Regions from separate parts of the Homo sapiens genome. Here all the other regions are reported to be linked to region 6. Evidence: microRNA targets listed by miRTarBase, many of them from high-throughput screens and not tested one by one. Region 6 holds a microRNA gene; each other region holds the end of a gene's coding sequence.

Evidence for each region. Region 6 holds the annotated microRNA hsa-miR-509-5p (UACUGCAGACAGUGGCAAUCA, at 2,461-2,481, shown strand). A microRNA usually pairs through its seed, bases 2 to 8, with sites in the 3' UTR of a target mRNA and lowers its output. Matches are read on the target gene's strand: a 7mer-m8 pairs with bases 2 to 8, a 7mer-A1 pairs with bases 2 to 7 and ends in A, and an 8mer does both.
Region 1: the mRNA of THEM6 is a reported target of hsa-miR-509-5p. Seed matches in the 3' UTR shown: 7mer-m8 at 1,306-1,312.
Region 2: miRTarBase lists ZNF221 as a target of hsa-miR-509-5p. Seed matches in the 3' UTR shown: 7mer-m8 at 3,273-3,279.
Region 3: the mRNA of DRAXIN is a reported target of hsa-miR-509-5p. The part of its 3' UTR that is shown has no 7-base or 8-base seed match.
Region 4: the mRNA of SMOC2 is a reported target of hsa-miR-509-5p. Seed matches in the 3' UTR shown: 7mer-m8 at 3,281-3,287.
Region 5: the mRNA of CRP is a reported target of hsa-miR-509-5p. The part of its 3' UTR that is shown has no 7-base or 8-base seed match.
Region 7: the mRNA of ZNF483 is a reported target of hsa-miR-509-5p. Seed matches in the 3' UTR shown: 7mer-m8 at 587-593, 7mer-A1 at 1,052-1,058 and 7mer-m8 at 2,195-2,201.

Annotation. Positions count from the first base shown.
Region 1 is chr8:142,734,749-142,738,814 of GRCh38, forward strand. It overlaps THEM6 (thioesterase superfamily member 6), which reads left to right. Exons shown (of 2, transcript NM_016647.3): 2 at 578-2,179. The coding sequence ends at 691. Among named protein-coding and RNA genes, the nearest start is that of SLURP1, 5.6 kb to the right of the region's middle. RefSeq lists an enhancer at 3,641-4,066.
Region 2 is chr19:43,966,743-43,970,808 of GRCh38, reverse strand. It overlaps ZNF221 (zinc finger protein 221), which reads right to left. Exons shown (of 5, transcript NM_001297588.2): 5 at 3,100-4,066. The coding sequence ends at 3,453. Among named protein-coding and RNA genes, the nearest start is that of ZNF155, 15 kb to the left of the region's middle.
Region 3 is chr1:11,719,121-11,723,186 of GRCh38, reverse strand. DRAXIN (dorsal inhibitory axon guidance protein) reads right to left here. Exons shown (of 7, transcript NM_198545.4): 7 at 1-3,603. The coding sequence ends at 3,491. Among named protein-coding and RNA genes, the nearest start is that of AGTRAP, 15 kb to the left of the region's middle. RefSeq lists an enhancer at 3,374-3,443.
Region 4 is chr6:168,666,006-168,670,071 of GRCh38, reverse strand. It overlaps SMOC2 (SPARC related modular calcium binding 2), which reads right to left. Exons shown (of 13, transcript NM_001166412.2): 13 at 2,080-3,651. The coding sequence ends at 3,634. Among named protein-coding and RNA genes, the nearest start is that of SMOC2, 230 kb to the right of the region's middle. RefSeq lists enhancers at 2,170-2,669, 2,670-3,171.
Region 5 is chr1:159,709,764-159,713,829 of GRCh38, reverse strand. It overlaps CRP (C-reactive protein), which reads left to right. Exons shown (of 2, transcript NM_000567.3): 2 at 1-1,541. The coding sequence ends at 305. Among named protein-coding and RNA genes, the nearest start is that of CRP, 2.8 kb to the left of the region's middle.
Region 6 is chrX:147,259,001-147,263,066 of GRCh38, reverse strand. MIR509-1 (microRNA 509-1) reads left to right here and starts at 2,442; the gene lies at 2,442-2,535. It overlaps MIR509-3 (microRNA 509-3), which reads left to right and starts at 3,341; the gene lies at 3,341-3,415. The region is part of intron 2 of LOC105373347 (periphilin-1); the gene reads right to left.
Region 7 is chr9:111,542,901-111,546,966 of GRCh38, forward strand. ZNF483 (zinc finger protein 483) reads left to right here. Exons shown (of 6, transcript NM_133464.5): 6 at 1-4,066. The coding sequence ends at 270. Among named protein-coding and RNA genes, the nearest start is that of ZNF483, 20 kb to the left of the region's middle. RefSeq lists enhancers at 2,129-2,298, 2,362-2,531.

The DNA.
Region 1 (4,066 bases), not on the chromosome of region 6:
GTGGGCCTGTGCCTGGCCTGTCCCCTCATCCTGGGAGCTCCCAATGCCCATCTGCAAGGCTGTGGACCCCTCAGGAGTGGCCTGGAGCCTGGCTCCCATTGCCACATGGTGGCTGTGTGTGTGGAGAGGGTTGATAGTGGAGTGGTCAGGCCCAGGCTGCCCTGGGGGATGAAGTGCCATCCTCTGGGTGCCCTGGAGAAAGAAGAGAACTCAGTGAGCCCTGTCTGGTACTTTCCTGGAGGAGGGCTCCCATGCTGGCCCTCCACCCCTCTGTCCCCTGTCACCCTGAGGCCTCTGGATTTCCTCTCTGCCCTTCCCAACCTGCCAACTTCACGGGTTTCTGGCTGGGTTCTGGGGATGGCCCCTAGGGGAGACGGGCCAGGCACAAGCGGGGCTGTGTCAAGGTGGGTATGCAGGGGTAGCACAAGTGTGCAGAGCCTGGGGAGGCATGGGCAAAGCATGGCAGGCGGCGGGGCAGGGGATCTTGGAAGGTCACGGGCTGGGGAGCAGTGTGGGCAGCGGCCCAGAGGTGGGAAGGCCGTAGCTTAGCTGGGTGTCCCCTTTCTGTCCTCTGCAGGTGGAGCCCCCTGAGCTGCCCGCTGATCTGCAGCACTGGATCTCCTACAACGAGGCCAGCAGCCAGCTGCTCCGCATGGAGAGTGGGCTCAGTGATGTCACCAAGGACCAGTGACCGCCACCTTCACACCGTCTGCCCTGGCCACCATCCTGGGCCTGGGGGCTGCCCACAGATGGGCAGTCTCAGCCATACTCTGTTCCAGCTGGAGTAGCCTCCTGACCAGCCTGGCCCACCCTGCTCCACCCACTGGGCCCCCCCAGTTATTGATACCCCTCTGTGCTGGGCTCCACGCTAGGCAGAAGGAGGAGTGGCATTGGCATCCTGACCCAGCTCTGCCCTCAAGGTGGGGATGGATGGGCAAAGGAGAGTCCTGCCTGGCCCTACGATGAGGCCACTCATGTGGGCCTAGGTAGGGGAGGATGGTGCCTGGAGCAGAGGGACCCACAAGTGCCTCCCGAGCCTAGATCCTGGCTCGGACCACTGCAAGGGCCGAGGCAGGGCCAGACCAGAGCATCCTGGGTACAGGCCTGGGCTCTCCAGGGCCTGGGCCTGATTCAGGTGCAGTGGGCACTCCTGAAGGGTCAGAGCGGCATCTGCCAGGCAGCCCCTCTGGCTTCCGCTGAGGTGGTTGCAGGCCTGGGGCAGAGCCTGGGTGGTCAGAGGCCGGGGCTAGAGGCAGATGGAAGGGAGGCATTTGCTGACAGAGGACGGGGCACCCGGGCTCCCCACTGCAGTCGGCCTTGCCTCCTCCTCCTCCTCTACCTCCAGTCAGGCTGGACGGGAGGGTAGCCTTGTGGCTGAGAGGGGTCAGACTAGGTGGCACAGGGGCTCCTGGAAAGACAGCAGGCTTCCTGCTGGGCGTTCCCTTGTTGGAGGGAATAGAGTGGGGGTGGGACTCTGCAGGGGTGTCCTTGTCCACTCGCACCCCTCGCCGCCCACCAGGGCCATGCTCTGTGACTTGGGCTGATCCCCACCCTTTCTGGGCCTACAGCACCACAGGCCGCTGTACCCCCTTAGAGCTGCCCCTCTCTGGCCTGGCCGGCAGGCGTCTTCTTAACTCCTCTGTCCTCTATATTCAGCATGTTCCTTGTCAGCTGCTGGGCCGGCCCTGCCTTGCGCTAGCAGAGCCTCTCCTGGCAGCTTCTCAGGTCTCCCTAATGGAGACACCAGGCTACTAGGACACTGGCTGGGGCCACCCCCTCCTGCCTAATGCCTCACCTTACAGCTGGGGAAACTGAGGCCTGGAATGGCCCAGAGTCACCAAGGCAAAGTTGGGGCTGGTCCCAGCCTGAGGCTCCAGCTGATGCCCTCAGCTCCCAGAGAGGGGGTGCCCCATCTAGCTGGGTGCAGGGGTCACTGCTTGTCAGCTCAGGGCCCTGTGCCCGCTTGCCTGTTCCCCTACATCTGTGCCTGCACATCCAGAACTGCCTCCTTGCCGCTGCCTCCAGGAAGCCCACCTTGAGCCAGAGTCAAGGGCTGCAGCACTGCCCGATAGAACACGCCCGCCCTCACTGCTGTTCTTGCCTTACAGCCACCATGGGAAAGCTGCAACCTTTCTGTTTTATTTAAAGAAAGCCCAACATTAAAGGGTTTTCATTGCAAGCGTGCTGGGGAGGGCCTTGTTTCTGAGCTACCACCACCACCATCCATGCAGGGGCGGAGGTGGGACCAGGGAAGCTGGGGCACATTCCCAAGATGGGTGTCTGGCATGGGGGGCTATCCAGGTTTGTTGGGCTCCCGTGAACTTAGGGATCAGGCTGGCAGGGCAGGGCTTGTCCTCATCCCATGGGGCATAGGACTGAGGCCAAGAAGGTGCTGTCCAAAGCCCCCTGGGGAGCCAGCCCTTCCTGCTCCGGCCCTCCTGGTTCCCAGCTCTCGAGGCTTGCAGCCCCATCTACAGATGCCAGCGCCAGGTTCCCGGTTTCCCTCCTTCAGGGATTACCCTGGCGGTCATGCCTCAGACTCTGGGTCTGGCCCTCCAGGCTCCCAGAGCCTCGGGCAGGGTGCTGGTAGCCATTGGGGGCAGAGGTCAATGGACTGGTGGGTGGACAGGAGGCAGAGAGAGCATGGGGGCTGTTCTGCAGGCCCTTCAAAAGGGGTGGGGAGAAGTGGGACCCTCCGGGACATAAAGTTGAGTGAGGCGGGGTGTGGCCACGTCCATGCTGTGACCACCTTCCTGGGAGGGTCCAGAAGGCTCTGAGGGCCAGGGAAGGAGTGGGCAGTTGGAAACAGCTATGAAACCGGCATTTAGTGATGGGGCAGTAGGGCTGGGGAGGGGAAGCAAACTTGCTCAGCAAATCTGGGGTCTGTAGCCAGACTGGTTGGCCAGAAGCCTCTGTGCTTTCTCTGGGGTCCTTGGGGGAGGTGGCTCGTGGGGTCGCCACAGGTGTGTGAGCTGAGTGTTGCCAGACAAGCTTCCCAGTGGGGCTGCAGATGAAGCTGTAGGGATGCCGTCCAGCTGATGGTCCTGACCATCTGCCTGAGCCCTGGAGCAGGGCGGGGGCCACAGGACAGGGTGCCTGGGCCTTGGGAGGGCACCATGTGATGATGCCACTGCGGTCCCTGGCTCAGCAGCTACCTCTGGGTCGTGGAAGGCACATTGGCCTGGATAGGGAGTAGGGCTCAGTGACTGGACTAGGAATGAGTGTATCCAGTGCGCATATGGATGTGCGTGCCTGTGTGCATTTGTGTGTGTGTGTGTGTGTGTGCGCACGTGCACGCAGGCAACGGGCAAGCTTCAAGGTGGTTGAATGGGCAGCACCCGCAAGCCTCTGGGGCTTCTCTCTCCATGCAGAAGCTGAACACCCTGGGCTGTCATAGGCTGGCTCAGAGGAAGGTTTGAGCCAGCAGGGCCCTCTCTTGGTCTTGTTTTTGGAGGACGGGCTGACGACAGGACTGGCCCGGGTCAGGGAATGGGTGGCTGGGATTGGAAGTGAACCAGTGCCTTGTCCTGGCGGAGCCACTGGAGCCCACTCTGCTCCTGTGAGCCTGCCACTCGGAGAAGTTAGAGGGCAGCAACTGCTTCGGCCCGCGTCCTTCCCCCAAGGCCAACAGCTGCAGAATTTCTGCCCCAGCCGCCCCCACCCCCGGAGGTGTCTGCACAGTGTCCAGGTGTCGGGCCCAGGAAGCCCTTGGTGGATGCTGGTGAAGAAGGGACAGGTACAGGGTATGGGAGTGTGTCCGGAGGTCCTGGGGTGGTGGCTGTGCATGGGTCCGTCGTCCTGGGGGAGGAGGCACTGTGCCCTCTGATGGCCAGGTGGACAGAGTCACGACTGCTTTGGTGGGTGTCCCCGGGGCTCACCCTAGGTCAGTTGCCTGCTCAGTCTCAGCATCCAGCCACCGCCTCTGGGCTCAGTCAGCTGACTGGCCACTGTTGTGTCCCCTCAGGGCCCAGGGACACAGATCCCCACATCTGAGGCCTTGCTGAGTGGAGTTCTACTGTGCCTGGTGTCCGGAATTCTGGGACAGCAGGACCATCGCCCACCTCAT
Region 2 (4,066 bases), not on the chromosome of region 6:
CTGTTTCAGGTTCCGCAATCAGTCATAGGTTCAGTCTTTTTACATAACTCCATATTTTTTTTCAGAGGTTTTGTTCATTACTCTTCATTCTTTCTCTATTCTTCTCTGCCTGTCTTATTTCAGAAAGATAGTCTTCAAGCTCTGAGTCTCTTTCCTCCTCTTGGTCTATTCTACAATTGATACTTGTGATTGCATTGTTAAGTTCTTGTGTTGTGTTTTTCAGCTCCATCAAGTCAGTTATGTTCCTCTCTAAACTGGCTATTCTGGTCATCAGCTCCTGTATTGTTTTATCATGATTCTTAGCTTCTTTGCATTGGGTTATGCCATGCTCCTTTAGCTCAGCAAAGTTCATTACCCACTTTCTGAGGCCTACTTCTGTCAGTTCAGCCATCTCAGCCTCAGCCCAGTTCTGTACCCTTGCTAGAGAGGTGCTGTAGTCATTTGGAGAAGAGGCGCTCTGGCTTTTTGAGTTTTCAGCATTTTTTTGTGTTGACTTTTTATCATATCTGTGGGCTTACCTACCTTCAATCTTGAGGTTGCTGACCCTTGAATGGGGTTTTTGTGGGGTCTTTTTGTTGATGTTCTTGTTGTTTTCTGCCTGTTTTTAACAGTCAAGCCACTGACTGTTAGCAACTGTAGGGCTGCCACAGTTTGCTGGGGTCTGCTCGAGACCCTAGTTGCCTCCGTTTTTCCCGTACCTGGAGGTGTCACCAGTGAAAGCTGCAAAACAGCAAAGATGGCAGCCTTCTCCTTCTTTTGGAAACTCTGTCCCAGGGGGATACTGACCAGTTTCTGGCCTGAAGACTCCTGTAGGAGGTGTCTAGAGACTCCTGTTGGGAGGTCTCACTGAGTCAGGAGGAACAGGATCAGGGACCTACTTACAGAAGCAGTCCAACTGCTTTTGGTACAGCAGGTGTGCTGCGGTGGGGGAGGACCCTTCCTCACCCAGATTGCCCAGACTCTCCAAAGCCAGCAGGCTGGAACAGCTTTGTCAACCGAACCATAGAGACAGTGGTCGCCACTCCCCTGGGAGCTCCATCTGAGGTAGAGATTAGATTTCTGTCAGTATAAGCCTGGCTGGAGTGACTGAAGACCCCCCACAGGGAGACCCCACACAGTGGGGAGGAATGGATCAGGGTCCTGCTTAAAGAAGCAGTCTGGGCCAGGTGCAGTGGCTCATGCCTGTAATCCCAGCACTTTGGAAGGCTGAGGCAGGCGGATCACCTGCGGTCAGGAGTTCAAGACCAGCCTGGCCAACACGGTGAAACCCTGTCTCTATGAAAAATACAAAAATTAGCCAGGTGTGGTGGTACCTGCCTGTAATCCCAGCTACTTGGGAGGCTGAGGCAGGAGAATTGCTTGAACCCAAGAGGTGGAGGTTGCCATGAACCAAGAGCATGCCACTGCACTCCAGTCTGAGCAACAGAGTGAGACTCCATCTCAAAAAAAAAAAAAAAAAAAAAAAAAAAAAAAAGCAGCAGTCTGGGCATGATCTGGCAAAGCAGGTGTTCTGTGTTGGGCAGGGGGATCCTCTCCTTGTCCAGACAACCTGGTCTCTCCAGAGCTGGCAGGCTGGAATGCTGAGTAGACTGAACCACAGAAATGGTGGCCAGCCTTCCCCCACAGGAGCTCCCTCCTATTTCAGGCTGAAGCCTGTTGCTGTTGGTTGGTTGAAATTCCAAGCCAGTGGGTTTTGTAAGGTGCCATGGAAGTGGGGCCCACAGAATGTTGCTGCCTGGCTCCCTGGATTCAGCCCCCTTCCTAGGGGAATATAAGGATGAATCTGCCACCTTGCCAGGAATTCTGGGGCTAGAGCATGTAAACCTCCTGGGTCTCTGTGTGTGCCTGAGAGGCCGCTCTGCCAAAACTCCACACAGCTCTGTGTATCAAACCCAAGGCCCTGGTGGCATGGGCTCACAAGGAGATCTCCTGACCCGTGGGTTGCAAAGATCCTTGAGTAGCATGGTTTCCTGCGCAGGGTCGCACAATCACTCACTGCTTCCCTTGGGTGGGGGTGAGGTTTCCTTTGGCTCCATGCCACACCAAGTGGGCCATAACTCCACCCTACTTTTCTTCATTTTCTGTGGGTTGAATTGATTGCCTAGTCAGTCCCAATGAGAGAACCTAGATATTTCAATTGAAGGTGCTGAATTTATCTGTCATTTTCATTCCTCTGTATGAGTACCATGAACCATAGCTGCTTCTAATTGGCCATCTTGGTCTATCCCAGGTTTCCTCTTTTAGATACAATTTTGAAATATGTTTTCTCCTTTTGATCCTTTAATATCACATCTCTGATATTTCAAAAGATATGAAGCCCAGCCAAAGCTCTTTCTACATCTCTTACATGTACCAAACACACATACAAAGTGCCAATCAGTGTTAAGGTTGTGAAGATTCTGCAGCAAAGGTAAATGCAGCTTATATTCTAGCCGACATCAATTTTGACATGTCCATCATTAGAGATTTGTAAATGCCTGAACAAACTCCTATTCTTTCTAAGGCCTGTCTCTTGAATAACTATAATTGCCAAACTTCTGAATGAAGCCCCAAATTACAAAGGTTCTGTGCTACAGTGGTTCTAAAACCACGTGGGTATGCTGAACTATGGCTGAAACTCTGACTTTAACTTAAATATTTTCCCTCCTGAGACTGTATGAAATGTATCATCAGCATGGATTCTGTAATAAGCTATGAGATATGAACTCAAACTGAAGTGCTTACCACATGTATCAAATTTTTAATGCTTCTCCCATTGTGAACTCTCAGATGAGCTTGTAGTTGAGAAGACTATCACAGATATCACCTTACTAAGGTTTCCCTTGAAAGTGAACAGTCCAATGAAGTTGAAGACTTTGAGGCATAACTGAAGCACATGGCAATCTCCCCAAACTTCCACGGTTTCTCTGCCATATGGACCCTCTGATGCATATCAAGTCAAGTGCCTGTTGTAGTACATCCCATGCTCCTCACATTTGTATGGATTATCTCCACTGTGGACTCTTTTCTTGGTCTTTAAGATGTGATCTATGGCCGGGCGCAGTGGCTCACGCCTGTAATCCCAGCACTTTGGGAGGCCAAGGCGGGCGGATCACGAGGTCAGGAGATCGAGACCATCCTGGCTAACACGGTGAAACCCCGTCTCTACTAAAAATACAAAAAATTAGCTGGGTGTGGTGGCGGGCACCTGTAGTCCCAGCTACTCGGGAGGCTGAGGCAGGAGAATGGCGTGAACCTGGGAGGCGGAGCTTGCAGTGAGCTGAGATAGCGCCACTGCAGTCAGGCCTGGGTGAAAGAGTGAGACTCTGTCTCAAAAAAAAAAAAAAAAGATATGATCTATGTACAAAGCTCTTCCCACAGTTCTCATATTTGAATGGTTTTTCTCTGCTGTGGAGAATTGATGGGTCAGATGAGTTGAGGCCCAGCCAAAGCCCTTCCCACACTTCTCACATTTATATGGCTTTTCTCCCACATAGACTTACTGATGTAAATGAAGCTGTGAATTCTGAGTAGATCTCTTCCCACACTCCAGATTTCAATGGCTTTTCTCCACTGTGGAGTCTCTGATGTTTCAAAAGACATGAAGCCCAGCCAAAGCTCTTTCCACATTCCTTACAATTATAGGGTCGCTCTCCCCCGTGGACCCTCTGGTGCATGTCAAGATTAAATTTACTGTTGTACCCCTTCTCACACTGCTCACATTTGTATAGCTTTTCTCCAGTATGGCATGTCTGATGGGAATGAAGTTGTGAACTCTGAGTAAATCTCTTTCCACACTCTTCACATTTGAAAGGTTTTTCCCCACTGTGGAGTCTCTGATGTTTCAAAAGACAGGAGGCCCAGCCAAAGCTCTTGCCACATTCCTTACAATTATAGGGTCTCTCACCCGTGTGGACCCTCTGGTGAAACTCAAGATCCAACCTCCTTTTATAGTCCTTACCACACTCCTCACAGTTATATGGCTTTTCTCCATTGTGGGATCTCTGATGGGAAGATCGTCGTGAATTTGTATAAAATCCCTTCCCACATTCTTCACATTTGAAGGATTTTTGTCCACTGTGGACTT
Region 3 (4,066 bases), not on the chromosome of region 6:
GCAAAGAGCAGTTTTTGCACTTTTAAATGGTTTTAGAAAATTAAACTAATAATATTTTATGGCCAGGTGCGGTGGCTCACACCTGTAATCCCAGCATTTTGGGAGGCTGAGGCGGGCGGATCACCTGAGGTCAGAAGTTTGAGACCAGCCTGGCCAACATGGTAAAACCTTATCTCTACTAAAAATACAAAAATTAACCAGGTGTGGTGGCACATGCCTGTAGTCACAGCTACTTGGGAGGCTGAGGCAGGAGAATTGCTTGAACCTGGGATGAAGAGGTTGCAGTGAGCTGAGACTGAGCCACTGCATTCCAGCCTGGGCAGCAGAGCAAAACTCCATCTCCAAAAAAAAAAAAAAGGAAAGAGAGAATAATATTTTGTGACATGTGAAAAGTATACAGAATTCACATGTGTGTCCAGAAATAGTTTTCCTGGAGCATAGCCATGAATTCATTTACACACTCTCTGTGGCTGCTTCGAGCTACGGCAGAGCTGAGTAGCTGGTGGAGATCAGATGGCTTGCAAATCCTAAAATGTTTATTTGGCTCCTCACAGTAAAAGTTTGCTAAACCCTGGATTAGAGGAAACTGGCTTCTGTATGAGCAAAATAAATTTAAGATAGACCTAAGGAAGAACTTCCTGGCAGAGAGGTTGGTTAGACACTTGAGAGGGCTTTGGGATTCCCAGCTCTGGAGTTAAGAGGTTCCATCCACCCATCCCTCTTTGGAAATGTCAAATAGAGATAGCTAGGGCAAAGAGACGGGCCTTGAATTTCCAACCATGGAACTACCCTGGCAACCAGTGGCAGTTCTATGGGCATTTTAGCTTTGTCCTGACCCTCTGTGTTCTCCATGGCTGATGTCCTAGGACCATCTAACAGCTGTCCCCCAGCCATAGTAATGCTGGGCTTTCTTCCGGCGGTACTCCTTAGGGTTCTAGCCCCACAGAGCCAGCACAGTCCCGAGTCACCACTTAATGTGAGGCACACACAGCATGTGTGGGTTGTCTGGTCTCAAGTACGAAGCTGCTGGCAGATCTGCCTTTTTACATTTTTAAGTGTTTTATATTTTTGGAGTCTCACTCTGTCGCCCAGGCTGGAGTGCAATGGCGTGATCTTGGCTCACCGCAACCTCCGCCTCCTGGGTTCAAGTGATTCTCCCGCCTGAGCCTCCTGAGTAGCTGGGATTACAGGCACCTGCCACCATGCCTGGCTAATTTTTGTATTTTTAGTAGAGATGGGGTTTCACCATGTTGGTCAGGCTGTTCTCGAACGCCTTACTTCAAGTGATCTGCCTACCTCGGCCTCCCAGAGTGCTGGGATGTCAGACATGAGCCCTCGTGCCCAGCCTTAATTTTTGTATATTTGGTAGAGACCGGGTTTTGCCATGTTGGCCAGGCTGGTCTCAAACTCCTGACCTGAGGTGGTCCGCCCACCTCAGCCTCCCAAAGTGCTGGGATTACAGGCATGAGCCATTGTGTCTAGCCATATCTGCCTTTCAGCTAGCCTGCTTTGATCTCCCAGTTCCCCTGCCCTCCCTGCTCCCTCCCCACAAGGTTCCCATGCCCATCAAACTTGGATAGGGAGAGAACAAGCATATTTAATTTCTTCTAGATCTGCCTGCTTTCCTTGGTGCCTGACCCCTGACCCCGACTGATTTTTCCAACGCAGTAAACATCTCTGGCATCTTATGGGCGTGATCCAGGCCAGTGAGGAATTTGGCCAGGAAAGTCTTTTGTCATTTGCAACCTGGTTCGCCCTGGAACAGAGGGTTGGCCAGGAGTGAGATGCCAAGTGGGGGGATTTAAATGGTTCTCCTGAAGTGACCCCTGAAGCCAGATCTGCTGGGACAGATGTCCTGGGTGGGCATTGTGAGTCTGGCCTGTTAGGGGCAGTTAGCTTCAGATAGCACCTCAATTTCAGGTGAGCCTCAACTTCCCAGTGGGCTCTGCTGCAAAAATGTGGGGTGGGGTTCCAGGGATGGTTTTGTGGTCCTGGAAATCACTAAACAGTATGCAAAGTGGGTAAACATGGGCAATATGTGTGGGGTTTTTTTGGATTCCATGCTTGCATCAGAACCCCTGGGGGGGAAGTGCTCCAGAAAACTGTAAAGTGCCTGTCCAGGACTGGATGATCAGGACCACAGGGACATAAAGGCCAACATGATTCTTTTCCCCAAACACTTCTTATCCCAGGATATCAGCTACTAGACCACAGGGATCAACCTGCCCAACTTATTCCTGCAAGCAAGTATGTGCTTAAGTTGTATTTTGTTTTGTTTTTAAACATGATACACCTTTATCCAGGGAAGGCAGAGAACAGTCAAGTTATTCCAGCCACAGAGGAAGGGAATACCAGGGTGTGAGCCTCTCTTGCCAAAAGCCTTAGAGAATCTGGAAGAAATTCTTGGCTGTGGAGCAGCAAGAACGTGGGCCTTGGAGCTGGACAGCCTTGGCCCAGGTTCATGTCCTTGCTCTGCCATGTACTTCCCAGGACCTCTCAGTGGGTCCCTGGGCCAGCAGCCTCGCGTTCCCTGGGAGCTTGTTAGAGCACAGAGCCCACTGAGTCAGATGTGCTTTTTTTTTTTTTTTTTTTTGAGATGGAGTTTCACTCTTGTCCCCCAGGCTGGAGTGCAGTGGCACGATCTCTGCTCACTGCAACCTCTGCCTCCCAAGTTCAAGCGATTCTGGTGCCTCAGCCTCCGAGTAGCTGGGATTACAGGTGTGCACCACCGCGCCTGGCCTAATTTTTGTATTTTTAATAGAGACGGGGTTTCCCCATGTTGGCCAGGCTGGTCTCGAACTCCTGACCTCAGGTGAGCCACCCGCCTTGGCCTCCCAAAGTGCTGGGATTACAAGCGTGAGCCGCCGCGCCCGGCCAGATGTACATTTTTAACTGGACCTCCAGGTGACTCTTAGCATGTTCAGGTTTGAGGAGCACTGACCTGGGACCCTGGGCAAGTCGAGTCAAATAACTCCAGCGTGCCTCACGGTCCTCAACCTGTCGCATGGTGATAATGCCTACTTGAAAAGGTCGTTGTGATAATTCAATGAGATAATGTATTCCAGCACTTAGCACAGTGCCTGGTACATAGGAGATGTTCCATATTCATCTCCTGATGGTGGACCTTCTTTCGGGAAGTTTAAATTTCTTTTCCACTCTCAAAAACGCCTCTTGGTTTTGAACTTGAAGCTGTTGCAGTGCTGGAGTCGGACAGTAGAGGGCACTCTCGGCATTGCCATCGCGGAGAGCAAGACACGCGGGATGGAGGCTGCGTGGGTCCGGACTTCGTGTGTGCAGGTGCTGCGGGCCGGCTCCTGGGCACCCACCCAGCTCATTCGCCGAGCGGCTCCCCTCCTGGGGTTGAGTGTCCTGGGCCTGAGTCTGCAGCCTCAGCCATCTGTTCCCCAACTTGATCTCCCACTGCTAGTTACAAACAAATCGCCCGGCTTGTGCAAACCTCCTGGGCTCAGTCCCCAGTCCCGCGGGGCCGCTAGACGTTGATGAAGGATCCCTGGTCGCCGTTGGCCGTCTCGGGCTCCACACAGCGCCCTTTCCTCCGTGTAACCCTGCGGTTCCGGTGGAATTTGGCATAGCAGCGCAGCCCTGGGCGAGTGGAGGCAAGGGGGGTCAGAGGCGCGAAGGGCCCGTGCCCTCCCCTTCCTTCCCCTGCACGCTCGGGGCCAGCCAGCTCCCTCCTGCCTTCATTATTCTGCCCTACAACCCAGCTTCCTCACGGCAGCCCCAATGAGCTTAAAAGACACGAACCCGGAAGAGGGGAGGAATGAACACGGAAGGAGAACAGAGAAGACTCAGGGCGGTCGGGGCGGTGAACATATTCTGTGTGACACGTAATGGTGGGACATGGCATGCATTTGTCAAAACCCACAGAATGCACCGCACAGTGAACTATAACTTACGTTGACTTCAGTTAGTAATAATAATACATCACTATTGGTTTGTCAAGCAACAAATGTACCAAGAGAGGCCGGGCACGGTGGCTCACGCCTATAATCCCAGCGCTTTGTAAGGCCGAGGCAGGTGGATCACTTGAGGTCAGGAGTTTGAG
Region 4 (4,066 bases), not on the chromosome of region 6:
GGGATTACAGGCATGAGCCACCACACCCAGCCCATATTGTCTTTCTTGAGTAGCTTTGTTGTTTGCTTGACTCAATTGTCCAATTGGCAGCTTATGATCATGTCAGTTATTTCTGTACATTGATTCCAAAAAAAAAAAAGCTGAAAACATTCACCTGGATCATTTAAAATATTTCTGGTGTGGCAATGATGGGCATGATTTATGAGTTGGTCAGTATGCTTCTAAAATAAATGTCCAACCAAGATATTTTTGACAAAAATGCAGGCAAGCCTTTTCAGACATAAGGAGGAGAGTGGGGGATGGTTTGGGGAAGGAGGCATCTTTCACTAGAAGCAGCCACATGGCCTAGGTAAGAGAAAGATTTCTGGTTTGGATTTGCAATCTTAATATTTTGCAATAAGAACCACCTGCACCGGCTCCATGCCTCCCCACTCTCTTTCCCTTCCTATCTTTTCAAGCTCTTTCAGACTTCTTGGACACTTCATTCTCTCCTACCTACTTCAAATCCCAGTTGAAGCTCCACCTCCGCTAGAGCTTTCCCTGACAGCAGCCCTGTGCTAATGCCCTTCACAGCACTGTCTTTACTGCACAATCGTCATGGCCAATGCTAAGACAGTTTTACAAAGATCACTTTTTTTCTGAATAGAAAGAAAATTGTGTGTGGGGTTGGGGTGGGCTGGGGGAACTTACCAGGACCAGGAGGCAGTAACGAATCCTGGAGGAAGTGTGTCCCGTTAAGATGCTACCACAACAGTCCAAGGAAAACACGAGGGCCTAAGCGAGGCAGGGATGCCAGTGCGGGGGAGGGGGACGCAGGATGTTGTGGGGGGCGTGGGGTGTGGGGGAGGGGGACGCGGGGTGTGGGGGACGGGGATGCAGGGTGTTGGGGAGGGGGACCTGGGGTGTGGGGGGGGCCGTGGGGCGTGGGGGAGGGGGACGTAGGGTGTGGGGGAGGGGGACGCGGGGTGTAGGGGAGGGGAATGTGAGGAGTGGGGGGGACGCAGGGTGTGGGGGAGGGGAATGCGAGGTTGGGGATGTGGGGTGTCGGGGAGGGGGATGACGGTGTGGGGGAGGGTGACAGCAGGTGTGGGGGAGGGGGACGCGGGGTGTGGGGGAGGGGAATGCGAGGAGTAGGGGGACGCAGGGTGTGGGGGAGGGGAATGCGAGGTTGGTGGGGATGTGGGGTGTGGGGGAGGGGGATGATGGTGTGGGGGAGGGTGACAGCAGGTGTGGGGGAGGGGAATGCTAGGTGTGTGGGGGATGCAGGGTGTGGGGGAGGGGAATGCGAGGAGTGGGCTCAGGCTTCTAGTTGTATAACTTGGAGAAAAGCACCAGCTTTTTTTAAAATTTATTTTTATTTTTTTTTTTGAGACTGAGTCTTGTTCTATTGCCCAGGCTGGAGTGCAGTGGTGTGATCTCGGGTCACTGCAATCTCCCCCTCTCAGGTTCAAGTGATTCTCCTGCCTCAGCCTCACAAGTAGCTGGGATTGCAGGCACCCGCCACCATGTCCAGCTAATTTTTGTATTTTCAGTAGAGATGGGGTTTCACCAGATTGGCCAGGCTGGTCTCAAACTCCTGACCTCAAATGATCCACCTGCCTCAGCCTCCCAAAGTGCTGGGAGTATAGGCGTGAGCCACCGTGCCCGGCCACCAGCTTTAATCAAAATAAGGCACTCTTTTTGTTTCTTCTGAAGTTTCCCATAGCATTGGGTGATGTCAGCAGCACTGGGCAGTGTGGACTTAAGACTCACGGGCAGATGACCTTCCACATGGTCAGGGCAAACACATGTACGTGGCACACCTGGGGTGCAGGTTCCAAGCACTTTACATACATTAACAACTCACATAATTCTCTTCCCATGTGTGGAAGGAGGAGGTTCATTCATACCACCAGCATCCCCGCATCCCAGAGGAGGAACTGAGGGGTCATGTCTAAAGTCACACACCACTCAGGGACACAGCCAGGGTTCCAATTCTTTCTGCCCAGAGCCCTCACCTTTCCCTCCCTTACAGTGGACACTTGTACAATTAAGCAATGATCAAAGTCTGCAATTAGCTGGAAAAAAAAAAGACTAATATAGTTTCAATAGCATATTTTATTTTAATCTAAGAACAATGATTAAATTCAAAGGTCAGAAATATAAAAGATTATCCAAAAAGTTTAGGATCATAACTGTTTCTTAAACAACATTGGCATGTACTTGAGCTGGTTCTGTGGCTCCAAAGGCTTGATTTTTACCTTGCACAGTTTAAATAAGCAAGAAGCCTTACGCGATGCTCCACAAGCATCACAACATCACAAAATCATTCTACAAGGCATGTCTCAGGGGATTTGGGGCCATGAAGATCTTTTTCCAACCAAAAGTCTGAGCCGAGATAGAATCACAGCTTGAAGTTCCTGCTCTCAGACTGTCCTCCAAATGGTTCCTTAAGACACTGGGTGCCCTGAGCTCTGGGGCCCAGGCCTGAGGGTGGCAGCTGGTTATGCACGCAGACCAGTTCTGTTGGTCACTGTGTGGGCATTCCACTCCTATCCTTCTCTGCCAGTGCCACTCGGATGAATTTCCCATTGGCAAGTTCTCGTACCCTTGATGCATTCAGAAAAGCAGAAAGGAACCGTGGGGACCCTCAGGCACCTCCCCCCGGCTGCCAACACCAGCCCCGGGGGCACCACGTATCCGGCTGTACCTTCAGTAAGGAGACTGCTCATAATTGGTTCAGGTGAAGATTTTACCTTCCGGTAGCCCTGGGGTGGACCAGGTAGGAGGATCAGGAGAATAATGTCCACGTGTAGGAGGAAAACCAGGCAGACAAGCCTGTTAGCCAGCTCGGTCACACCGCGACTGGATTTACATTTTGGAAGGATGGGCCCCTCCCAGGCACTGTGACTGGATTTACTGCCTCCTAGGCAGCCTCCCACCATCCGAACGACTCTCTGGGACTCATTCAAGCCCCAGGGCAAAACTCAAAACAGAAGCTTAAAATGGAAAAGCAAAGATCCTTTGAGCCAAAGTATCACACCAACGACAGTTTGAAAATATTATTTCCTCCAGGGGAACTACCTGCACTTAACTGGATAGCTTTAGTGGTTGCGTGATTCATTGTATGAGCAAGATCTCTGGAAAGCAAAACAAGACAAACTAACAGAAAATCCCAAGAAACAAACCAGCCCATGCATGTTAACTGCCTGTAGGGTCGGCCGTACATCACAAACTTCCATGGACATGTGGAGCTTCCAACATGATTCCACAATGCTGTAAGCACAGGCATCTGGAAGTGACTGCAGGGGTTAGAGAAAGCCATACGATTGCAGCCGGAGTGCATAGAGCTCTACTGTTAACATGTGGAAGGCGAAGAAATTAAGCCTAAATGCATTCAAATACTTCTCCACCACATACAGATTTCCAAGGTCAAAAGAGGACACATACATTGTATGTGATTAATTTTCTGAAGCCAGCTCTCCATTTTCACAGATTAAAACAGTCTGTTTAAATAGCTCATTTCTACAAAGTGAATTTACATTTAAAGTACAAAGTGCAAATACTATGTGTTTCTGTTTTTGTTTTCTTAATTGCTCTTTGGTGAGGGAAATTTCCCATGTGTCTAGGAACTGCCTTCGGGGTATGAGCCATTTATCCTTGTTTCCTTGGCTGAAAAGGAAAAAACAAAAAAGAGACATTATATTCAGAGGTGTGTGTCGCTCATCTGTGAAGACTAAGGCTTGGCTTCTGGGAATGAACTGAACCAAAGAGGGCTGGGCAGGTCATGTGAGGTGTAAGTATGAGTAAGAAACAATGAAGACATTTTGGACACTGGTAACTTCTTAACAGTTTCCTTCCTTGACATGATAGAAAAATTGGGAAAAATATATCGTTTCAAAAAAGTAACATCCACTGTAAATATTCTAAGTACTAAATACATTAAATGTTTTCCAGAATGTCTTATCACCTTGATTATACAAAAATAATTTTAATAATATAACTTATGCTTCAAATTTGATAAAGGCATAGTTGATTCTTAATTTTCCTTTTTATCTTTTTTGTTCACTAGTTTACCTCTTTAAGA
Region 5 (4,066 bases), not on the chromosome of region 6:
TCGTGGAGTTCTGGGTAGATGGGAAGCCCAGGGTGAGGAAGAGTCTGAAGAAGGGATACACTGTGGGGGCAGAAGCAAGCATCATCTTGGGGCAGGAGCAGGATTCCTTCGGTGGGAACTTTGAAGGAAGCCAGTCCCTGGTGGGAGACATTGGAAATGTGAACATGTGGGACTTTGTGCTGTCACCAGATGAGATTAACACCATCTATCTTGGCGGGCCCTTCAGTCCTAATGTCCTGAACTGGCGGGCACTGAAGTATGAAGTGCAAGGCGAAGTGTTCACCAAACCCCAGCTGTGGCCCTGAGGCCCAGCTGTGGGTCCTGAAGGTACCTCCCGGTTTTTTACACCGCATGGGCCCCACGTCTCTGTCTCTGGTACCTCCCGCTTTTTTACACTGCATGGTTCCCACGTCTCTGTCTCTGGGCCTTTGTTCCCCTATATGCATTGCAGGCCTGCTCCACCCTCCTCAGCGCCTGAGAATGGAGGTAAAGTGTCTGGTCTGGGAGCTCGTTAACTATGCTGGGAAACGGTCCAAAAGAATCAGAATTTGAGGTGTTTTGTTTTCATTTTTATTTCAAGTTGGACAGATCTTGGAGATAATTTCTTACCTCACATAGATGAGAAAACTAACACCCAGAAAGGAGAAATGATGTTATAAAAAACTCATAAGGCAAGAGCTGAGAAGGAAGCGCTGATCTTCTATTTAATTCCCCACCCATGACCCCCAGAAAGCAGGAGGGCATTGCCCACATTCACAGGGCTCTTCAGTCTCAGAATCAGGACACTGGCCAGGTGTCTGGTTTGGGTCCAGAGTGCTCATCATCATGTCATAGAACTGCTGGGCCCAGGTCTCCTGAAATGGGAAGCCCAGCAATACCACGCAGTCCCTCCACTTTCTCAAAGCACACTGGAAAGGCCATTAGAATTGCCCCAGCAGAGCAGATCTGCTTTTTTTCCAGAGCAAAATGAAGCACTAGGTATAAATATGTTGTTACTGCCAAGAACTTAAATGACTGGTTTTTGTTTGCTTGCAGTGCTTTCTTAATTTTATGGCTCTTCTGGGAAACTCCTCCCCTTTTCCACACGAACCTTGTGGGGCTGTGAATTCTTTCTTCATCCCCGCATTCCCAATATACCCAGGCCACAAGAGTGGACGTGAACCACAGGGTGTCCTGTCAGAGGAGCCCATCTCCCATCTCCCCAGCTCCCTATCTGGAGGATAGTTGGATAGTTACGTGTTCCTAGCAGGACCAACTACAGTCTTCCCAAGGATTGAGTTATGGACTTTGGGAGTGAGACATCTTCTTGCTGCTGGATTTCCAAGCTGAGAGGACGTGAACCTGGGACCACCAGTAGCCATCTTGTTTGCCACATGGAGAGAGACTGTGAGGACAGAAGCCAAACTGGAAGTGGAGGAGCCAAGGGATTGACAAACAACAGAGCCTTGACCACGTGGAGTCTCTGAATCAGCCTTGTCTGGAACCAGATCTACACCTGGACTGCCCAGGTCTATAAGCCAATAAAGCCCCTGTTTACTTGAGTGAGTCCAAGCTGTTTTCTGATAGTTGCTTTAGAAGTTGTGACTAACTTCTCTAATGACCTTTGAAATCAAGTCCCTGTAAGTTTACACTTCCCATTACACAACATATCCATGGCACTTTAACCTGTCCAAGAGTCCCCTGAAGGGATTCCCTCTGACAAGCACAGTCCCTCTTTTGAGATAGCTGGCCATTCATGTAGGGCCAGTTGTGGGGGTTTTAGTACTCTCATTCTATCATTATTCCAATTTGAGGAGCAAAAACTAAAGATCATTGAGATCCATGGATCTGCTGCCAGGTTCAGTGACTGGAATGCACTTGCCCCAGCGGGTTCAAGTTCTTTGTAGAAACAGACCCCTCAAAGATGACAGCAGCTGGCTTCCTCCAGAAGTGTCCTTCAACACTGTCTTTCAGTACTAAGTGACCAGTAGAAGTTACTCCATAAAGACCATAGCCAGGAATGAATTATGGGGCTTCCTGCATATCAAATGGTTACCTAGGGAAGGCATATGGTAAACTAGTTAAGCACAGAGGTTCTGGAATCAGACTGCCTAGGTCCAAATCCTGGCTTTACAACTTACTAGCTATGTGACCTTAGGTGATATAACCTCTTTACGCCTCAGTTTTCTTACCTACAAAGCAGGAGAAATAATAGTAATTAGCTCAAAGGGTTGCTATAAGAATCAAAGAAAATCATGCAAGCAAAGCACTTACTACAGTGCCTGGCACATAGTAAGCTCTTATAACAGTTTTCTGGTATTATTCTTATTAAGCCATTTTGTATTATATCCATAAATGTAGATTCATAAAATACATAAAAATACAACTTGGTAGAATTTGTCTTGGTTGGCAGCAGTTGAAGCTTCTCATTTGCTAAGAATTAGGTTTAGAATGTTAGAAGGGTGAACAACAAGTCTTTGAAGCCATTATTTATGAATATTGACTTCTCTAATTGACTTTTGATAACCATTTGTAAGCATAGAAGCTAAGGATACATTCTCAGACAAAAATGAGAGTGCAAATACTCTCTGTTGTCCAATTAGGGCAGATCCATCCATCCTCACATTCAGCTAAGCAGAAGAGAGGATTGACACTCTTTTCTAGTTAAATAATCCAGATACGTCTTAATTATAGAAGGCCATCCCAACTCCCCAGGGATGTAGGTTGAGCTAATATTTTCTTCAGAATTCAGTTGCTTGCATCTTACTATACGTAGTCTGGTAGACAGCCTCTGGCCTTAATAATTTGAGCCAGGAAAATCTTAACAGCTGGTATTTGCATTCAGAGAACATTAAAAAATCTTAACAAAGCATTCGTAGGATGTTTAGATTTAAGCAATTTAGCCTACTGGTGGGTACATCAATGTAAACTTGTTGGAAAATGTATTTCCAGGTAACTGGTGAATTGTCATACCATATAGAGCTATTAGATGTAATCCAATTAAATGTTAGATGACATCTGCCAAAGAAGATGATTCTGATTTGGGCATGTTGGTTCTAAGCAATGCTTTTTTTTTTTTGCAGTAAGTGGAGAGTAAGATCAAACATCCACCGTGGCCACTTCTAGCTGATGCTAATAAAACCATGTTGTCAGGACTGGTTTTCTGTTAGAGTAGGGACCATGGATCCAATTTTTCCAGAAGTAGAATCAGGCCTCAAGGAATGAGTTAAAAAGACATAGGGACAAATGGTCTATAAAACCTATAATAGAAAGGAGGTGAAAGCGGGGTGGTGGCCCAGTGCCTGAAGAGATACTGTAGTGCATTTACAGGCCAAATAAGAGAAAGTAGAACAATAGTATGAATCAGAGATGATGGAGGCTGCTACTTGATAGAACACTTTCTTTTTGGAACTGAAAATAGCCATGTTGGTATAAGGGTTAGGGCCAGGCCTGACCCTAATGTAAGCGCCTTAGCATGGGATGTGATATGGAGATGTGCAGATCAGAAACCTAAAATCTCCCTGTGTCAGAAAAAAATGTTAGCTCACTGGCCAGGCAACAAGACTTGCACACTTTCCAAAAAGAGGTGGTCATGGAGAGAGCATTGTTAAGAATGGGCTGCATGTCAGGCCAGGTGAGTGGATGAGAAGCCACCTCTGTGATGAGACTTGGTCTATCCAGGCCCTGGAGGAGAGAGTACAGGCTGCCTCAAAAGTGAGGCTGGGACCTGATGGAAATGGATTTGGAGTCCCAGCTGACAAAGTAAGTAGAATGTTAAATCTGTGATATTCTCCCCCATGCTTTCACTATCCTCAAGTTTGATGTGCCCCAGGCAAGCAAAGATTGACAAAGGAAGCAAATGACTCTAGATGATTGAGCACCACCACCACGTAGATCAAATTTCCAAAGTATAGATTTCTGATCACTAGAATCCCAGGGAAAAGAGAAGCACTGCTTTGATTTCTAGGTAGCTTATCCTAGGACAACTGCCCACTAGTCTCAGATGGGTTGTCGTACTTGCCTGGATTCCTTCTCTTCAGCTCCCTGTCTCTATTTCAAATATGCATCTTTTCATTTCCTCTGCACT
Region 6 (4,066 bases):
AACAGCACAGGGAAGACCCGCCCCCATGATTCAATCTTCCACCGGGTCCCTCCCACAACACATGGGAATCAGGGGAGCTACAAGATGAGATCTGGGTGGGGACACAGAGCCAAACCATATCATTCCACTCAGGCCCCTCCAAAATCTCATGTTCTCATATTTCAAAACACAATCATTCCTTCCCAACAGTCCCCCAAAGTCTTAACTCATTTCAGCATTAACTAAAAAGTCCACAATCCAAGGTCTTGTCTGAGACAAGGCAAGTCCCTTCAACCTAAGAGCCTGTAAAATCAAAAGCAGGTTAGTTACTTCCTAGATATAGTTGGGGGTACAGGCATTGGGAAGATACAGCCAATCCAAATGGAAGAAATTGGCCAAAACAAACGGGCTACAGGTCCCATGCAAGTCCAAAATCTGGTGGGGCAGTCAAATCTTAAAGCTCCAAAGTGATCTCCTTTGACTCCATTTCTCACATCCAGGTCATGCTGATGCAAAAGGTAGGTTCCCAAGGTCTTGGGCAACTCTTCCCCTGTGGCTTTGCAGGGTACAGCCTCCTTCTTGGCTGTCTTCATGGGCCAGTGTTGAGTGTCTGTGGCTTTTGTAGGCACACAGTGCAAGCTGTCAGTGGATCTACCATTCTGGGGTCTGGCGTATGGTGGCCTTCTCACAGCTCTACTAGGCAGTGCCTCAGTAGGGACTCTGTGTTGGGGCTGTGATCTCAGCTTTTCCTTCTGCACTGTCCTAGCAGAGGTTCTCCGTGAGATCCTTGCCTCTCCAGCAAACTTCTGCCTGGAGATCCAGGCATTTCTATTCATCCTCTGAAATCTAGGTGGAGGTTCCGAAACCTCAGTTCTTGACTTCTGTGAACCCACAGGCTCAACAGCTTATGGAAGCTGCCAAGGCTTGGGGCTTGTACCCTCCAAAGCCACAGCCTGAGCTATACCTTGACCCCTTTTAGCCACAGTTGGAGTGGATGGGACACAGGGCACCAAGTCCCTAGACTACACACGGCACAGGAACCCTGGGCCTGGCCCTCAAAGCAACATTATCCCCCTAGGCCTCCAGGCCTGTGATGGGAGGGGCTGCCACGAAGACCTCTAACATGCCATGGAGATACTTTCCCCATTGTCTTGGGGACTAACATTTGGCTCTTCATTACTTATGCAAATTTCTACAGCTGGCTTGGATTTTCCTCAGAAAGTGGGTTTTTCTTTTCTATAGCATTGTCAGGCTGCACATTTTCCAATCTTTTATGCTCTGCCTCCCTTATAAAATGGAATGCCTTTAACTGCATGCAAGTTACCTCTTGAATGCTTTGCTGCTTAGAAATTTCTTCTGCCAGGTACCCTAAATCATCTCTCTCAAGTTCAAAGTTCCACAGATCTCTAGGGCAGGGGCAAGATGCTGCCAGTCTCTTTGCTAAAACATAAAGAGTCACCTTTGCTGCAGTTTCTAACAAGTTCCTCATCTCCATCTGAGACTACCTTAACCTGGATTTCATTGTCCATATCATTATCAGCATTTTGGGCAAAGCCATTCAACAAGTCAAGTCTCTAGGGAGTTCCAAACTTTCCTACATTTTCCTGTCTTCTTCTGAGCTCTCCAAAGTGTTTCATCCCGTGCCTGTTACCCAGTTCGAAAGTCGCTTCCATATTTTCAGGTATCTTTTCAGCAGTGTCCCACTCTACTGGTACCAATTTACTGTATTAGCCCATTTTCACATTGCTGATAAAGACGTACCCAAGACTGGGCAATTTACAAAGGAAAGAGGTTTAATGGAGAATTCATAGTTCCATGTGGCTGGGGAAGCCTCACAATCATGTTAGAAGGCAAGGAGGAGCATGTCACATCTTACATGGATGGCGACAGGCAAAGATAGAGAGCTTGTGCAGGAAAACTCCCATATTTAAAACCATCAGATCTCATGAGACTTAGTCACTATTATGAGAACAGCAGAGGAAAGACCTGCCCCCATGATTCAATCATCTTCCACTGGGTCCCTCCCACAGCATATGGGAATCATGGGAGCTACAAGATGAAATTTAGGTGGGGACACAGAGCCAAACCTTATCATATGAGATTGATGAGATGGAGGATTATTTACTACTTAATTAATGGATATGGAGAATGCAAACTGGTAGTTAATGCTTTGCAAGTAGCAATGTGAAAAGGAACAGGATAAGACATGCAAGGATATTTCTTCTGTGAGTAACAGAACCTAACAGAAATGTTTAATATTTCTCAGTTCTGAAAACTGTCACGTGAAAGCTGCAACATGGGAGTGGACAGCACTCAAAGCAGGAAACATAAGGAAAGATAGTGGATTGGATTCTGCAGAAGTCCTTTGTCCAAATTCCAATGGCCACCCACAACTTGTAAATATTGAATGGCTGTTTTAAAGGTGAATGGGTGGGTATTAAGGCAAGGCTGCCATCCTCAGACATGCTGTGTGTGGTACCCTACTGCAGACAGTGGCAATCATGTATAATTAAAAATGATTGGTACGTCTGTGGGTAGAGTACTGCATGACACATGCAACATACATGATGACACTGTGTGTGTGTTGGAGGCATTTAGTTGCATGCAGAGGGATGCTTTCCTTACAGTGCAGGTATTTTACCCTCACAAACCCTCCACTTCCATGCTGGACTACCTCAGAAAACTCTCTCAGGTGCCTGACCACCAGACACGTGATCTAGGAATTTAAGGTCCTTGCAACAAGCCTCCCATTGAGTTCTTCTGAGATTGACTTCCATTTCTATGATGTTGCCTGATTGAACCAAGGTTTATCTTGCCATTTTACAGTTTCTTTCTGCCTTAAGAGTATTATTCATTTTGCAGAAACTATTTCCTTCTCCAACATCCAAATCTATTAACGGTTAGCTTCCTTTCTAATTTTCAAGTCTTCTTAAGCCTTCCAAAATTCCCTCCTGCTTCTTAAACACTTAACTTTCTGAAAATCAAAATATTTTCTGTCTCAGATATACAAAGTCCTCTTTCTTCATGTGCTAATAAAGTACATATTCGTTCTTTTGTAAATATATTTTAATCTATTATAAGGAACAGGATAAGACATGCAAGGATATTTCTTCTGTGAGTAACAGGACCTAGCAGAAATGTTTAATATTTCTCAGTTCTGAAAACTGTCATGTGAAAGCTGCAACATGGGAGTGGACAGCACTCAAAGCAGGAAACATAAGGAAAGATAGTGGATTGGATTCTACAGAAGTCCTTTGTCCAAATTCCAATGGTCACTCACAGGTTGTAAATATTGAATGGTTGTTTCAAAGGTGAATGGGTGGGTATTAAGGCAAGGCTGCCATCCTCAGACATGCTGTGTGTGGTACCCTACTGCAGACGTGGCAATCATGTATAATTAAAAATGATTGGTACGTCTGTGGGTAGAGTACTGCATGACACGTGCAACATACATGATGACACTGTGTGTGTGTTGGAGGCATTTAGTTGCATGCAGAGGGATGCTTTCCCTATAGTGCAGGTATTTTACCCTCACAAACCCTCCACTTCCATGCTGGACTACCTCAAAAAACTCTCTTAGGTGCCTAATCAGACACATGGTCTAGGAATTTAAGGTCCTTGCAACAAGCCTCCCATTGAGTTTTTCTGAGATTGATTTCCATTTCTATGATGCTGCCTGATTGAATCAAGGTTTATTGTGCCATTATACAGTTTCTTTACGCCTTAAGAGTATTATTCATTTTGCAGAAACTGTTTCCTGCTCCAACATCCAAATCTATTAATGGTTAGCTTCCTTTCTCATTTTCAAGTCTTCTTAAGCCTTCCAAAATTCTCTCCTGCTTCTTAAACACTTAACTTTTCTGAAAATCAAAATATTTTCTATCTCAGATATACAAAGTCCTCTTTCTTCATGTGCTAATAAAGTACATATTCGTTCTTTTGTAAATACATTTTAATCTATTATAAGGAACAGGATAAGACATGCAAGGATATTTCTTCTGTGAGTAACAGAACCTAACAGAAATGTTTAATATTTCTCAGTTCTGAAAACTGTCATGTGAAAGATGCAACGTGGGAGTGGACAGGA
Region 7 (4,066 bases), not on the chromosome of region 6:
ATTCATACTGGTGTAAAACCTTATAAATGTAAAGAATGTGGGAAGTCCTTCAGTCAGAGTTCATCTCTTAATGAGCACCACCGAATTCATACAGGAGAGAAACCCTATGAGTGTAACTATTGTGGTGCAACCTTTAGTCGAAGCTCAATCCTTGTAGAACACCTAAAAATTCATACCGGAAGGAGAGAATATGAATGTAACGAATGTGAGAAGACATTTAAAAGTAATTCAGGCCTCATTAGACATCGGGGATTTCACTCTGCAGAGTAATCCTGGAACTACATTAAAGTGGGGGGAATTTAATTCAAATTGTCAGTTACTGAAACCCTGGGATGTAAACTTACAGTATTGATCAGTAGCTGCAGCTTTCGTAAATTGGCAGTTAGGAAAAATATCCTTTTGCCCATTCATCCCTCTTCTTTTCAAGGATGGCAACGACTGGTAAACAGTAATTAGTTGGTAAAGTCACTGGAAAGGGAAGAATGCAAAATGATTCTGAGGCCAGACGAATTGGAAAAGCTCTTTTCTTCAGGGGATTTCTCTCTGATTTCTTCTACTACCATGTAGTGTGATGGAGAGAACTTGACTGCAGTCACATAACTTGGATTCTGTCCCAGTTTGCCAACCAACTTGCTGTATACACCTTGGACAAGTCATTTGACCTTTCAGAATTTTATTTTCGTCACCAGCAGAATGAAGGGATGGGATTAATGATTTTTGCCTTTTTTGGTTTTTTAGTTTTTTATTGGTATCCTGATAATCTCTGAAGCTGTGGACATAAGTTATTTTTTTTTATTTGTCATTACTTTCAAGTTTCTCTAGTAAAAAATACAATACCACTATTCAGGATGCTGGACTTCTTTTCTTTTTTTTTTCTTTTTTTTTTTTCAATTTTTCTTTTTTGGGATGGAGTCTCACTATGTTGCCCAGACTGGTCTTGAACTCCTGGGCTCAAGTGATCCTTCCATCTCACTTTCCTGAGTAGCTGACATTACGGGTACACTCCATCAAGCCTGGTTCCTAGGATGCTGGACTTCTAGCTTAGTGAGAATGCAGTATACTTTTTGAAAACTTCGTGCAGGAATCCCTCAAATGCTGTAACTAGGAATGGGTCAGTGAAGTTCAAACGACTTTTCCTTGAGGGAGTATTTTAATCGGACAAGGGAACTCTTTTTCTTTTGGGCATTGGCCAACAGGACTGAGAAGCCAGAGAGCTTGCACCTGAGCCATCTCAGCCGTGAGAGTAACAGTCCTAGGAAAATAGATGGGGGCTGGGGGTAAGGAAATGTGCTGAAGACAGAGCTATTCTGGATGGATTTTGGTTTGCAAAAATTCTACTTTAAAACAATTTTGCCTGTAGCAAGTACATTTTTTTGCAATTGGAGTGTAAACATTCTGTGTGGCAACAGTTAAAAGCTGTTATAACAATTTGCTTGGGTGTGTGTGCATGTGTGTGTGTGTGTGTGTGTGTGTATACATTGTTGCCACTATCTAAAATTAGGGCATTTCATACTAAAAACAAAGCTTGTCTTAAAAAAAATTATAAGGGCTAACAACACTGGGCTTTTATTTATGTAAAGCACTCAGCTGGTCCTGGGTAGCAGCTGCCACCTTTTGATGGGGAATCAACTTTCTGACTTAGCTAGTTCTCTCATGTATGTCACCTGACTTTCCCACTGTATGAATGTTCTATTATAACCCCTACCATTTGGAGAATAGATACCCTAAAATCTAAAGAGACTGCACTGATAGCAAGTAAAGTTCAGGGAATGAATGTAGAATTGATACAGAAAAAATTTTCAGTTAAGTTTTCTTTTGTGAAATTAGACCTCAGAGGAATGGAATATACGGGTATTGGTGGATTATTCCTTATAAATTTCATTGGTGGAGTCTGAATAATAATTTCCAACTGAAAAAGGAACTTAAGGCCCTGAATGAGTGAGGTTTTGGCTTCAGGTCATAGGGTTCTGGAGGAACCCCATGGACTCAACAGTGGTCTAGAAATAAGTTCCTAAAGTTGAAATTGTGGGCACCTCCTATAAAAAGAGAGCTAAACCAGAAAACTCTTCACTTATGGAAGTAAAGCGATCCTTAATGCTAATCTTAGACTCAGGAACATTTACTGTGACTAATGTATGTAGGTGTGAAATGCTACCTCTGGGAGAAGGTTTTTGGTGCCTCCCCAACCCCAAGCCTGCAGTTTAAATATTGCCGTGTGATAAATTGGTCCGCATAGTTATTGCTAAGCAGACCAACGAATCACATCCTAGCCATGAAAGGAATGTTTATTATGAGAATCATTCATAATGGTTTTAAGTTTTTTTCTGAAAAGACAGAAAACTTGTTGTAAGTTTTGTTTTCTGAAAAATATAATTTATAGAAAGTTGAAGAAATAACGTAAAAGTCTTCAGAAGAGGCTTGTTCCAAGATGATTACTCTTAGACTCCCTAACATTCATAACAATGTTTTATCCCAGTATCCATTGGGAATCTGGAGTATAAACTTTTTTTTTAAAGGAATTTATTGAGGTACAAATTACATATCATTAAAACCATTTCAAGTGTACAATTCAGTGAGTTTTAGTAAATATGCTGAGTTGTGCAACCATTACCATAATCCATTTTTTAGAACATCATCCCAGCAAGATCCGTTATTCCAGTTTACAGTTAATCTCCCGTCCAACCTCTAATCCCAGGCACCCACTACTCAGTCGACTTTGTGTCTCTAGAGTTGTCTTTTTCTGTACATTTTATGTTATATGTGATCTTTCTGTGTTTTTTTCATTAATGTGTTTTAAGTTCATCCATGTTGTAACATACTAGTACTTTATTCCTTTTTATCATAAATAATATTACATTATGTGGATGCTTCGTGCATTCACTAGTTGAAGAACATTTGAGGTTTTTCCAGTTTTTGCCTGTTAGGAATAATGCTGCTTTGAACATTGGTATGCAAGTGTTTTGAACGTTAGTGTACAAGTCTTTGTGTGGACATGTTTTCATTTTTCTTAGGCAGATGCCTGAGGGGAGTTGCTAGGTCATACGGTAAATTTTCATTTAACTTTTTTAGGAAACTGCCAAATTGTTTTCCAAAGTGACCGCATTATTTTACATTCTGACTAGTAATGTGTGGGGCTTCCCATTTCTCTACAGTCTTGCCAGTCATTGTTGTCTGTTTTTTAAAAATTATGCCCATCCTAGCGTTTGAAATGATATTCCTTTGTGGTTTTAACTTTGATTTTCCTGATGGCGAATAATGTCAAAGCATCTTTTATGTGCTCTTCAGCCATTCATGTATCTTAGTGAAATGTTTATTCAGATTTTTTGTCCATTTAAAATTGGAGTTTGCTGATACTGTGTTGTAGTCCTTTTTATTCTGGATATAAGTCCTTTATCCAATATGAACTTTCTAAATACCATGTACTAGCTACAGAGAGCAGCCCAAACTCTGTTGGATAATATTTATCAAAGTCTTGATTTCAGTAGTTAAGTCTGTATAATTGCCTGCAGGACATTCAGTCTGGCCCATCACCCAAATATTTAAATTCACTTTTGGATTAAGTCAGATTATCAAAAGGCTTTAAACGTCTTTTGATTCATTATAGGATTGCTTTTATGAAGAGCACTGTGACACATTTTACTTTAAAATGAAGTCCTTGCTTTAAATAATGTTTCCTCTTAATGAGCGTGTATAAATTTTTTTCATGTCACAGGACAAGGCAAGGTTTTGGTCAATAAAGTCATTTTATTTATTTTAGAATTATTTTTTAATGTAGTAAGATACATATAGCTTAAAATGAACCATTTAAACACTTTTTGGTTATACAGCTCAATAGCATTTAGATAGATGCACATTTTGTGCAGTCATCACCACTATCCATCTCCAGAACTTTTTCATCATCCCAAACTGAAACTCTGTACTCCTTAAACAGTAACTCCCCATTTTCTCCTCCTCAGGCTCCTGGTAACCACTGTTCTACTTCCTGTCTGTACAAATTTGACTGTTCTAATTACTTGGTATGAATGGAATCATACAATATTTGCCCTGTTGTGTTTGGCTTATTCCA